2 separate regions of the Homo sapiens genome follow, and region 2 is linked to region 1. Evidence: fine-mapped expression QTL. A gene starts in region 1. The other region holds a variant in brackets. All regions are shown on one strand. Distances are from middle to middle. Region 1 holds the start of SIGLEC10-AS1 (SIGLEC10 antisense RNA 1). Region 2 holds the start of LIM2 (lens intrinsic membrane protein 2).

What was found. PIP is the estimated chance that this variant, and not a neighbour inherited with it, causes the effect.
Region 2: its variant is fine-mapped to the expression of SIGLEC10-AS1 in whole blood (TOPMed, PIP 0.94).

Annotation. Positions count from the first base shown.
Region 1 is chr19:51,413,109-51,418,475 of GRCh38, reverse strand. SIGLEC10-AS1 (SIGLEC10 antisense RNA 1) reads right to left here and starts at 2,752. Exons shown (of 3, transcript NR_164125.1): 1 at 2,344-2,752; 2 at 1,746-2,047; 3 at 279-1,344. SIGLEC10 (sialic acid binding Ig like lectin 10) reads left to right here and starts at 834. Exons shown (of 11, transcript NM_033130.5): 1 at 834-931; 2 at 1,011-1,394; 3 at 1,526-1,810; 4 at 2,119-2,166; 5 at 2,309-2,578; 6 at 2,861-2,908; 7 at 3,038-3,295; 8 at 3,368-3,652; 9 at 3,961-4,054; 10 at 4,653-4,764. The coding sequence starts at 895. RefSeq lists enhancers at 605-674, 735-904.
Region 2 is chr19:51,385,906-51,391,272 of GRCh38, reverse strand. LIM2 (lens intrinsic membrane protein 2) reads left to right here and starts at 3,299. Exons shown (of 5, transcript NM_001161748.2): 1 at 3,299-3,354; 2 at 3,824-4,004. The coding sequence starts at 3,830. C19orf84 (chromosome 19 open reading frame 84) reads left to right here and starts at 682. Exons shown (of 2, transcript NM_001193623.2): 1 at 682-795; 2 at 1,764-2,984. The coding sequence starts at 761. The coding sequence ends at 2,289. It overlaps LIM2-AS1 (LIM2 and SIGLEC10 antisense RNA 1), which reads right to left and starts at 4,165. Exons shown (of 2, transcript XR_002958397.2): 1 at 4,076-4,165; 2 at 3,902-3,985. The variant C/T (reference allele first, on the strand shown) is at 2,899.

The sequences.
Region 1 (5,367 bases):
ATCTCAGCACTTTGGGAGGTCAAGGCAGGTGGATCATTTGAGGTCAGGAGTTCAAAACCAGCCCTGCCAACATGGTGAAACCCCACCTCTACTAAAAATACAAAAATTAGCTTGGCGTGGTGGCGCGTGCCTGTAAGCCCAGACTCAGGAGGCTGAGGCAGGAGAATCACTTCAGCCTGGGAGGTGGAGGTTGCAGTAAGCAGAGATTGCACCACTGCACTGCAGCCTGGGTGACAGAGTGAGACTCTGTCTCAAAATATAATTAATTAATTAATTAATTTGAATTTCAGATAAATTTATTTTGCTTTCTGGTATAAGTATATCCCATGCAGCATTTCGGACATACTTATACCAAAAAACATAAAATAAAATACTTTATATTGTCTGTGAAAGCTTTAACCAGGCATCCTGCATTTTACCTGACAAGACCAGCCCCCTCCAGTAACGGTCCCTTCCCCTGTACCCACCACCTCCACCACCAGTGGCCCAGATAAGGGTAGCTCACTGTGGACTTCTCACTTCTGCTTTTCCGATGACCCAGGGCCCAGAGGGAGAGCCCCCACCCCACTACCCCACCCCCAGCCAGGCCCCCAGGATAGACACAAGCCTGCCCTCTCCTCCTACACAGGGAGCTCTGGAAGGACCAGCTCAACAAGCCCAAGGCCAGGCTGGGCCCCCAGGAGACCCAGAGGACAACTGGGCAAGGTGGGCCGGAGAGTGTGGGGGAAGGCAAAGGAGTTCTGTGAGCTCAGCGTCTGAAGCTCATTTCATGCATCAGGCCCCAGGGCTCAGCTTCCGCCTTCGGCTTCCCCTTCTGCCAAGAGCCCTGAGCCACTCACAGCACGACCAGAGAACAGGCCTGTCTCAGGCAGGCCCTGCGCCTCCTATGCGGAGATGCTACTGCCACTGCTGCTGTCCTCGCTGCTGGGCGGTGAGTGGGCCAAGGGCCGGAAAGGACCTGGGGCGGAGCTAGGGCTGGGGTTGCAGGTTGAGCCTCTGTCTCCCCACAGGGTCCCAGGCTATGGATGGGAGATTCTGGATACGAGTGCAGGAGTCAGTGATGGTGCCGGAGGGCCTGTGCATCTCTGTGCCCTGCTCTTTCTCCTACCCCCGACAGGACTGGACAGGGTCTACCCCAGCTTATGGCTACTGGTTCAAAGCAGTGACTGAGACAACCAAGGGTGCTCCTGTGGCCACAAACCACCAGAGTCGAGAGGTGGAAATGAGCACCCGGGGCCGATTCCAGCTCACTGGGGATCCCGCCAAGGGGAACTGCTCCTTGGTGATCAGAGACGCGCAGATGCAGGATGAGTCACAGTACTTCTTTCGGGTGGAGAGAGGAAGCTATGTGAGATATAATTTCATGAACGATGGGTTCTTTCTAAAAGTAACAGGTATGGAATGGGGTGGGAACCCCTGCCTCTCACACTGGGGAGGGACCCTGGGGACAGCCTATGGGCTGAGCAGAGAGGGCTCTCAGGGACCCCTGCAGCACAAGAATCTCCCACCACGGTCTCTGTCCCAGCCCTGACTCAGAAGCCTGATGTCTACATCCCCGAGACCCTGGAGCCCGGGCAGCCGGTGACGGTCATCTGTGTGTTTAACTGGGCCTTTGAGGAATGTCCACCCCCTTCTTTCTCCTGGACGGGGGCTGCCCTCTCCTCCCAAGGAACCAAACCAACGACCTCCCACTTCTCAGTGCTCAGCTTCACGCCCAGACCCCAGGACCACAACACCGACCTCACCTGCCATGTGGACTTCTCCAGAAAGGGTGTGAGCGCACAGAGGACCGTCCGACTCCGTGTGGCCTGTGAGTGTGGCCTGGGAGGGTGGGGTGTGCAGACAGCCCCGGTGGGTGGGGAGGTGGAGGAGCCCAGTGGGACAGTGAGCGGCTCCCAGCTCAGGAGCATCCAGGGAGAGGAAGCTGTGGGGTCCCAGGATGCCGCCGCAGCCCTGGGAGGGGGATGGGAATGGCGTCTGGTCCACACACGTGAGCCCTGGCGCTGGTTGTCACTTGTCTTCCCGGGATAGTCCCACTTTCTTTTCCCTGAGGGAGTTTTTTCCAGGTGTGAGGAATAAATTGTCCCTCCCTGAAGCCAGCTCACAATCTTGTTGCAGATGCCCCCAGAGACCTTGTTATCAGCATTTCACGTGACAACACGCCAGGTACTGAGGGCCGTCGGGCTGGGGCTGGGCCAGTTGTCTTTAGATGAAAAGGCTTCAGGGGATGAGGGGATGTGCTCCTCCCTGTACCCCTTCTCTCTTTCTCCCTCCCTTTCTCTCTTTTTTTTTTTTCCTCCCACTCCAGCCCTGGAGCCCCAGCCCCAGGGAAATGTCCCATACCTGGAAGCCCAAAAAGGCCAGTTCCTGCGGCTCCTCTGTGCTGCTGACAGCCAGCCCCCTGCCACACTGAGCTGGGTCCTGCAGAACAGAGTCCTCTCCTCGTCCCATCCCTGGGGCCCTAGACCCCTGGGGCTGGAGCTGCCCGGGGTGAAGGCTGGGGATTCAGGGCGCTACACCTGCCGAGCGGAGAACAGGCTTGGCTCCCAGCAGCGAGCCCTGGACCTCTCTGTGCAGTGTGAGTGTGCCCAGCAGGGGCCTGGAGTCCATTGGGAGGGCAGAGGGATACAGGGGCTGGGCTCAGGGTCCCAGAGCTGAGGGGGCCTGGAGCCCCAGGCCTCGGAGACCGACCTTCTTACCTGTGTAGACCCTCATGCAGTTTGTGTCTGGGACTCAGTGGGTGATTCTGCCCTGCCCTTCTATCCCACCCACTTCCCCCACCTCAGTGTCCAGGATGGTTCCCTTTACCCAGAGGGAAGCCCCTGGTCCGTCTAGAGCCGGTCCCCTGTCTCCATTTCAGATCCTCCAGAGAACCTGAGAGTGATGGTTTCCCAAGCAAACAGGACAGGTAGGAAAGGGGACAGAGGAGCCAAGGCCTCTCAGTGCCGAATTGGGGGCCCAGGAGTCTGGAGGGTCCCCACGCAGGAGGGTCCCTGAGCCCTGAGCTGCTCATCGATTCTGCCTCTTCCTTCCCTAGTCCTGGAAAACCTTGGGAACGGCACGTCTCTCCCAGTACTGGAGGGCCAAAGCCTGTGCCTGGTCTGTGTCACACACAGCAGCCCCCCAGCCAGGCTGAGCTGGACCCAGAGGGGACAGGTTCTGAGCCCCTCCCAGCCCTCAGACCCCGGGGTCCTGGAGCTGCCTCGGGTTCAAGTGGAGCACGAAGGAGAGTTCACCTGCCACGCTCGGCACCCACTGGGCTCCCAGCACGTCTCTCTCAGCCTCTCCGTGCACTGTGAGTGGGGGAAAGGGGACACCTGGGTCCCAGGAAGGGGACCCTGCTGAGTCCTGTCCTCCCTCCCCTCAGACTCCCCGAAGCTGCTGGGCCCCTCCTGCTCCTGGGAGGCTGAGGGTCTGCACTGCAGCTGCTCCTCCCAGGCCAGCCCGGCCCCCTCTCTGCGCTGGTGGCTTGGGGAGGAGCTGCTGGAGGGGAACAGCAGCCAGGACTCCTTCGAGGTCACCCCCAGCTCAGCCGGGCCCTGGGCCAACAGCTCCCTGAGCCTCCATGGAGGGCTCAGCTCCGGCCTCAGGCTCCGCTGTGAGGCCTGGAACGTCCATGGGGCCCAGAGTGGATCCATCCTGCAGCTGCCAGGTTAGGGGGCCGCCTGGATGCCAAGGTTCTTGGAGGAGAAGCTGACTGGGGCAAAGAGTAGGGTCCTGTGGTTGGAGCAGGAGCTTGGAGGGACACAGCAGACCCGTGGCATCTGTATGTAGACAGGAAAACACAATGGGAAGTCCTAACACCTGGGCCGGGGTGTGGCAGGGTTTCCTAAAAGTAAACAGAGGGGTTGCAGATACAATGTCCGCCATGGGAACCGGAAGCCTTAATGCCGAGTGATGAGCGGGCTTCGTGAGCCCTGCGTGGATGGGAAATGCTCACCTTGCCCTCTCCGTGTGCAGATAAGAAGGGACTCATCTCAACGGCATTCTCCAACGGAGCGTTTCTGGGAATCGGCATCACGGCTCTTCTTTTCCTCTGCCTGGCCCTGATCATGTAGGTTAAGAGGAGGCGTGGCGGGGTCTGGGGCCTGGACCCAGGAAGAGGGGAGGTGTTGCAGGCCGAAAGAGTGAAGGTCGTGATCAACGCAGTATACCTCTGGAGGTTACATGAGTAAACAGCAAACTGTTCTCATAAATGCAGAATGTTGTCCAACTGACAAACTGCGTCTGCTTCCCAGAGGGAATGCTGAGGGCAGTCACGCCCCAAGCGAAGTGTTTCTTGTAATTAGGCACAGCTGAAGCTTGTTAGTAATAATATGAACCTGTGATCAATTAAACAGCTGACCAATTGTTACCTCCTGCTCTCTGCTCTTTCTACCCAATAAATACAAAGGGCTGTAGAGGCTCAGACAGCTGCCCTGGCTCACTAGTAGCAGGGAACCCTCTTCTTCTTCCCCTGACCCCTTCCTTTAAAATAATTTCTTTTGTCTTAAGTTTTCATTTCTACGTTTGTCCTCCTTCTTTCAGTCTCATAATGACGGTCTCAAGTGGTAACAGTAGTAACTGTCATAGTGACGGTCTCAGGTAGTAAACGTGGCAGTCTGTCACAGGGAGGTGCAGCAGGGCACAAACAGGTGGGTTCATTTCCTCAGCATGAAGATTCTACCGAAGAGACGGACTCAGACAGAAACCCCGAGGCCCAGGTTCTCCCGGCACAGCACGATCCTGGATTACATCAATGTGGTCCCGACGGCTGGCCCCCTGGTGAGTGTCTGGGCCATGCTTCCACTTTTTCTCTTCTCTAAAGCTGACATCCCACTTTCTGACTTTTGCACCCCTTGTCTTAGCGACATCAAGGTGGGAAAAGCACCGATAGTTCTGAATTCAAATCCTGCCTGGCACTTACTAGCTATGAGACCTCAGCCACGTCACTCACCCCCTCTGAGCCTTCATTTCTTCCTCTGTCTCCTTTGAGAGTTGGTTTGAGGATTAGAATACATGCACTTTCTCAATCTGTAGCCATTGTTCCATTATTACTGCCACCATTGACATGACTACACTTAACTGCTTAACAATTATGTGTATCATCGGGAGGCTGGGCATCCTAGGGATTCAGCACAGGGGGTCTGAAATCAGCCTGCATGGGTTCAAATCCTGCTGTCATCACTGTGTCATGAAACAAGTGTCTTAACTTCTCTGTGCCTCAATTTCTTTAGCTGTAACATGGAGACAATACTAGCGGCCACCTCCTAGGATGATGCTGGGTGTTAAATATATTGTACTTGCATAATAAAATATTCAGAATATCACCTGGCCCCTGGGTAATACTCTGTAAATTCTGGAAATTATTAAGAGATAACATCTTAT
Region 2 (5,367 bases), 27 kb after region 1:
CTAAAACGTCCCTTGAGTCCTAAAGAATCTGTCTTGAGGATATGGCAGGAATAAAGAGAGAGAAAGACAGAGAGAGAGAGAGAAGGGGGCAGGGGTCCCGGGACTACTGAATCTGAGAGAGGAAGGGGGCTGGGGAACCAGAGTACGGGGTCTGAAGAAGGAGGGGCTGGAGCCTGGACTCCCGGGTCTGAAGGAGGAGTGGCTAGGACCCTAGACTTCCGGGTCTGAGGGAGGAGGGGGCTGGGGATCTGGACTCCTAGGTCTTAGGGAGGAGGAACTGGGGATCTGAACTCCCGGGTCTGAGGGAGGAAGAGCTGGGGATCTGGACTCCCGGGTCTGAGGGAGGAGGGGCTGGGGCCCTAGACTTCCGGGTCTGAGGGAGGAGGGGGCTGGGGATCTAGACTCTTGGGTCTTAGGGAGGAGCTGGGGATCTGGACTCCTGGGTCTGAGGGAGGAAGAGCTGGGGATCTGGACTCCTGGGTCTGAGCGAGGAGGAGCTGGGGATCTGGACTCCTGGGTCTGAGGGAGGAGGGGCTACAGGGTGCTGGAGGCCTTAAGTAAGTGATCTTGGGGAACTAGATCCAGGTCCCCGCCTGAGCTCTTTCTTTTGGGATCCCGGATAACTCCGCGAGCCACGCCCCATTTCTGACCCGGCCAAGCCCCGCCTCTCTCGGCCTCGGCCCCTCCCCAACCTTCCCGGGCCCCCGAAGGATCTCGGAGGCGAAGTTGCTAGAAGATACGTAAGAGGGCCCCAGTGGAGATGGAACAACCAAAGGACGGGGCTGGGCCTGAAGGGTGAGACAAACAAAGACCTCCTGAGAGGGGGACAGAGACCCAGAGAGAGGAGGGGACAGAGAAAACGAGAGAGAAAGGGCGCGCTGAACAGACCTGCATAGAGAATCAGGAAAAACAAAAAAGGCTCAGGTATCATCACATAGGTACAGAATCTTAGAAGATCTTGGTGAGAGTTGAGCGAGATACTTAGAAACAGGCGGAGGCCGGGTGCAGTGGCTTATGCCTGTAATCCCAGCACTTTGGGAGGCCGAGGCGGGTGGATCACATGAGGTCGGGAGTTCGAGACCAGCCTGACCAACATGGAGAAATCTGTCTCTCCTAAAAATACAAAATTAGACGGGCGTGGTGGTGCGTGCCTGTAATCCCAGGTACTCGACAGGCTGAGGCAGGAGAATCGCTTGAACCCGAGAGGCAGAGGTTGCGTTGAGCCAAGTTAGCGCCATTGCACTCCAGTCTGGGCAACAAGAGTGAAACCCCATCTCAAAAAAAAAAAAGAGCTAGAAACAGATACTCATCGAACAGAAATTTCCAAGAATAAACCAAGAAATGTGAAGACTCCAGGGATCCCCAGAAGGCTGGAGAAATCGTAGCTGTCCACTGTTTTAGCACTTACCAGACCCAGCGCTGTCATACGCACCTTTGATACCATCCAAAGCCATCTGTGACTATAAACAAATTAAGGTTCGGAATAGGAAAATGATTTGTCCAAAGATACACCACCAAAAGCGAGGCCACCAGGAATTGGAACTGAGTTCTGTCTGGTGCCGAAGTTCATGGCAGAGCTGTCTGTTTCTTTAGAGAGACCCGGGTTAGAAACAAAAAGAGAGAAGCGGGGGAGGAAGTCACAGGTGGGCACTGAGGATGGAGAGATGGCTGCCTTCTGCAGAGGTGCAGAGACAGCCTGGCAGCGAGAAACAAGAAAGTACGGAGACGCTGAGCCCCACTGACCTGTCTTTTTGTTGTTCTAGGAACAACCTGTCCCTGCCGTCATCTGGGACCGAGCCATGGCCCCCTGCGCCTCTCCCAGCCCCTCCACCCTTGCTCCTGAACTCCACAGACCCCACCCACCTGGGGCTCCCGGAGAGCGTGGCCTCTGTCACCGTGCCCATACGCCTGGACACCCTCTCCTGCCTCCTGCACAGCGCCCTGCTGGGGGCCTACACCTTCCAACAGGCCTTGCCCTCTTGCCCCTGCTGCTCCCAGGCAGGCCACTCCCAGCCGGGGGCAGTTAGGAGGCCTCCCAGGGGACGCGGAGGCTGGGAAGTCAGGCACAGGCCAGGCTGGGGCCGAGGCCTGCATCGACGGGGCCTTGGGAGAGCTGAGCAGCCAGAGAGGGGCCGGGCGGGGGGCCCTGGGGCTGGCCCCAGGACCCCACCAATGACACTGCCATCACCACCAACACTGCCTGCCCAGGATGGGAAGAAAGAAGCTCGAGGTCCAGAGCCACCCCTGGAAACACCACTGGCTGCTGAGGACTGGGAGACAGAGTACTAGGACCTTGGAGGGTCAGGCACCTGAGATTGCAGTCACCCAGGAGGGTTTTCCTGGGGCCCAGAGTGATCTCAGCCCTGTCAGAAGAACCCCAAGAAACATCTTCCATCCTCCCCTCTCCCCAAAACCACAATCCCAGGAGTAGCTCCTGTGAGGCACTTGGTGAACCTGACCTAAGTCACCTGAATCCCAAGTGAGAAGAAAATCCTAAACCTCGTACCCAAACCTGTCTCCTTGATGGCCTCAACCCCATTCCCAATGCCATCCCCAACCACAACCACAATCCTTACCTCATTCTCAACCCCCAGGGCTCCTCCAACCCCATTCCCTATCCTCTCCCTAATCCCAAAGCCACTCCTACCTGCCTCTCTCTTCCCCACTCTCAATACCCTGTTCCCAAACCCATTCATTCCCATCCCTGTCACCAGTCCCAGCTCCACTTCTGCGCCTCAACCCTAACCCACCCTCTTTACCAACCCCTTTCTCCTCATTGCCTGTGTACCTCAGCCCATCTTTAATGTCCTCTGAATCTACAGCCCCAAAGAGCTCCATCCTCAACCTCAGCCACAGCCCTGTGTCCATCCCCACAAAGAACCGCATTGGCCCCACATA[C/T]CCAGACACCTGTGACTCCCCACCCCACTGCCTGCTCTTCAGGTAGAAAGCCCTGGTTGAACAATAAACGCATGACTCTCCCTGAATCTTGCGTGTGTGCGCGCGCCCGTGTGTGTGTGTGTGTGTGCGTGTGTGCGTGCTTACACAGCTCGGACAAAGCCAGGGTTGCTTTGAGCAAGGCTGGCGACAAGGTATTGGGTTCCGGGGAGGGTCACAGAGGTCAGTGAGTGGGTGGGGGGAGCCCCCTGGATGCCTGCTTCAGCGAATTCCATTTGAGGCCTCTGCCACCGCTGCATTTCTGCCTGCTGGAAGCTGCTGGGTAGTGGGACCATTGTGTAGGGAGGCTTAAGGGATTTGGGGAACCTAAGGGGGCAAAGAGGCCAGTGACCAGGCTCAGCTCAGTCTGCACAGAGGGGCCGTGGCAGAAGGAGGGCTCGGGCAGGCTCTGCCACTCAGGTAGGCACCAGGCGTGAGACCTGTAGCCCCCTCTTCCCCAAGTCCCAGGAGTCTAGGGTCCCAGCTCCTTCTTCTCCCAGGACCTGGTGTCCTACCCCCTAGCCCCTAGCCCCTTCCTTACCCACCACCCAGGAATCCAGGCTCCTGGGCCCCTTCTCACCTAGGACTCAGGAAGCTAGGCCTCCAGCCTATTCCTTGCTCAGAACCTGGAAGTCCAGGCCCCCGGCCTTTTCTTCCCAGAACCCAGCCCCGCTCTCCCTGTTGTCTTTCCAGGATCCCTACCATCCTCCTCCCTCAGACCCAGGAGTCCGGGCTCCAGTCCCCTCCTCGCCCAGGACCCAGGCGTCTAGGTCTCCATCTCCTTCTCCCAAGCACTTGGCATCCCACTCCTGAGCCCTCTCTCCCCCCAGTTCCTCCCTTCAAGTCCCGGGAATTCAGCTCCCAATCCCATCTCTCCCCTTCCCCACAGATCACCATGTACAGCTTCATGGGTGGTGGCCTGTTCTGTGCCTGGGTGGGGACCATCCTCCTGGTGGTGGCCATGGCAACAGACCACTGGATGCAGTACCGGCTGTCAGGGTCCTTCGCCCACCAGGGCCTGTGGCGGTACTGCCTGGGCAACAAGTGCTACCTGCAGACAGACAGCATCGGTGAGCCCCCCGGCCAGGGTCCAGGCCGCGCCTGGGGAAAGAGCAGGGCGGACCTCGGGGCCCAAGGACACCTGTATTCCAGATGGAGAACTCTGCGGCTCAAAGAGGGAAAGGGAGCAACCCAAGGTCACTCAGCATGGAGGGGGCAGAACTGGGACTACAGGGTTGTTTTCTAGCTGCAGTTTCACGGGGTGCTGGTTTGAAGGTTAAGTTGGGAGAGGTGGCATTTCCTGACGCTTCAGAGGTGTCATGCACAGCAATTGGGGCTAGTGTCACGAAACAGCATTTTCTAAATATGTACTATGGACCAAGAACTATGTTAGGTACTGGTGGATACTGAATTTGCTAAATACTGCATAAAGTAGCATAAAGTATTTTTGCCTACTTATAATGTGCCAGGCCATAGATAGAGAGATACATAGAGATATATAGTATATTGCTTGCTGCATAGCATCTATAATATATTAAGTTAATGTATACTATATTATGTGTAATATATGCAATTTATATTATTACATATAATTTATGATGTATTATATATAACTACATATAGACAATAATATACAGTATAGTGTATTATACATGCACCTCTATTATATAATAAATTACTAATACATAATATATTGTATATAATATGCTACATATTATATAAGTAATGCACATGTAATATATTATATATGATGTAGAATCCATTATATTACACATTCATTATCTAATAAATAGTATATGTCATGACATTATATAATAAATTAATAATGTATATATTATACAATATATTATATAATAAATTAATAATGTAGAGTATATTATATTGCACACTTATTATATAACATATTAATAAATTTGGCCAGGCGTGGTGGCTCACGTCTGTAATCCCAGCACTTCGGGAGGCTGAGGTGGGCGGATCACCTGAGGTCAGGAGTTCAAGATTAGCCTGGCAAAAAAGGTGAAACCCGGTCTCTACTAAAAATACAAAAATTAGCCAGGCATGGTGGTGAGCACCTGTAATCCCAGCTACTCAGGAGGCTGAGGCAGGAAAATCGCTTGAACCTGGGAGGCGGAGACTGCAGTGGGCCCAGATGGCACCACTGCACTCCAGCCTGGACAACAGACGAAGACTCTGTCTAAAAAATAAATAAAAATTAATTAATAATATATAATATATTGTGTATTACTACTAGTAACAGTAATAATAATAACTGGCATTGATTGAGTGCTTACTATGCCCTATGTGCTATTCTAAGCACTTTACATGGATAAACTCACTTCCATCCCCAACAACACTACGGGCAGTTCAATTGTATGTAAGAGTGAGACATGAGATTTGATCTCAAAATTCAAACATCCTCTTGAGTAGCTGAGA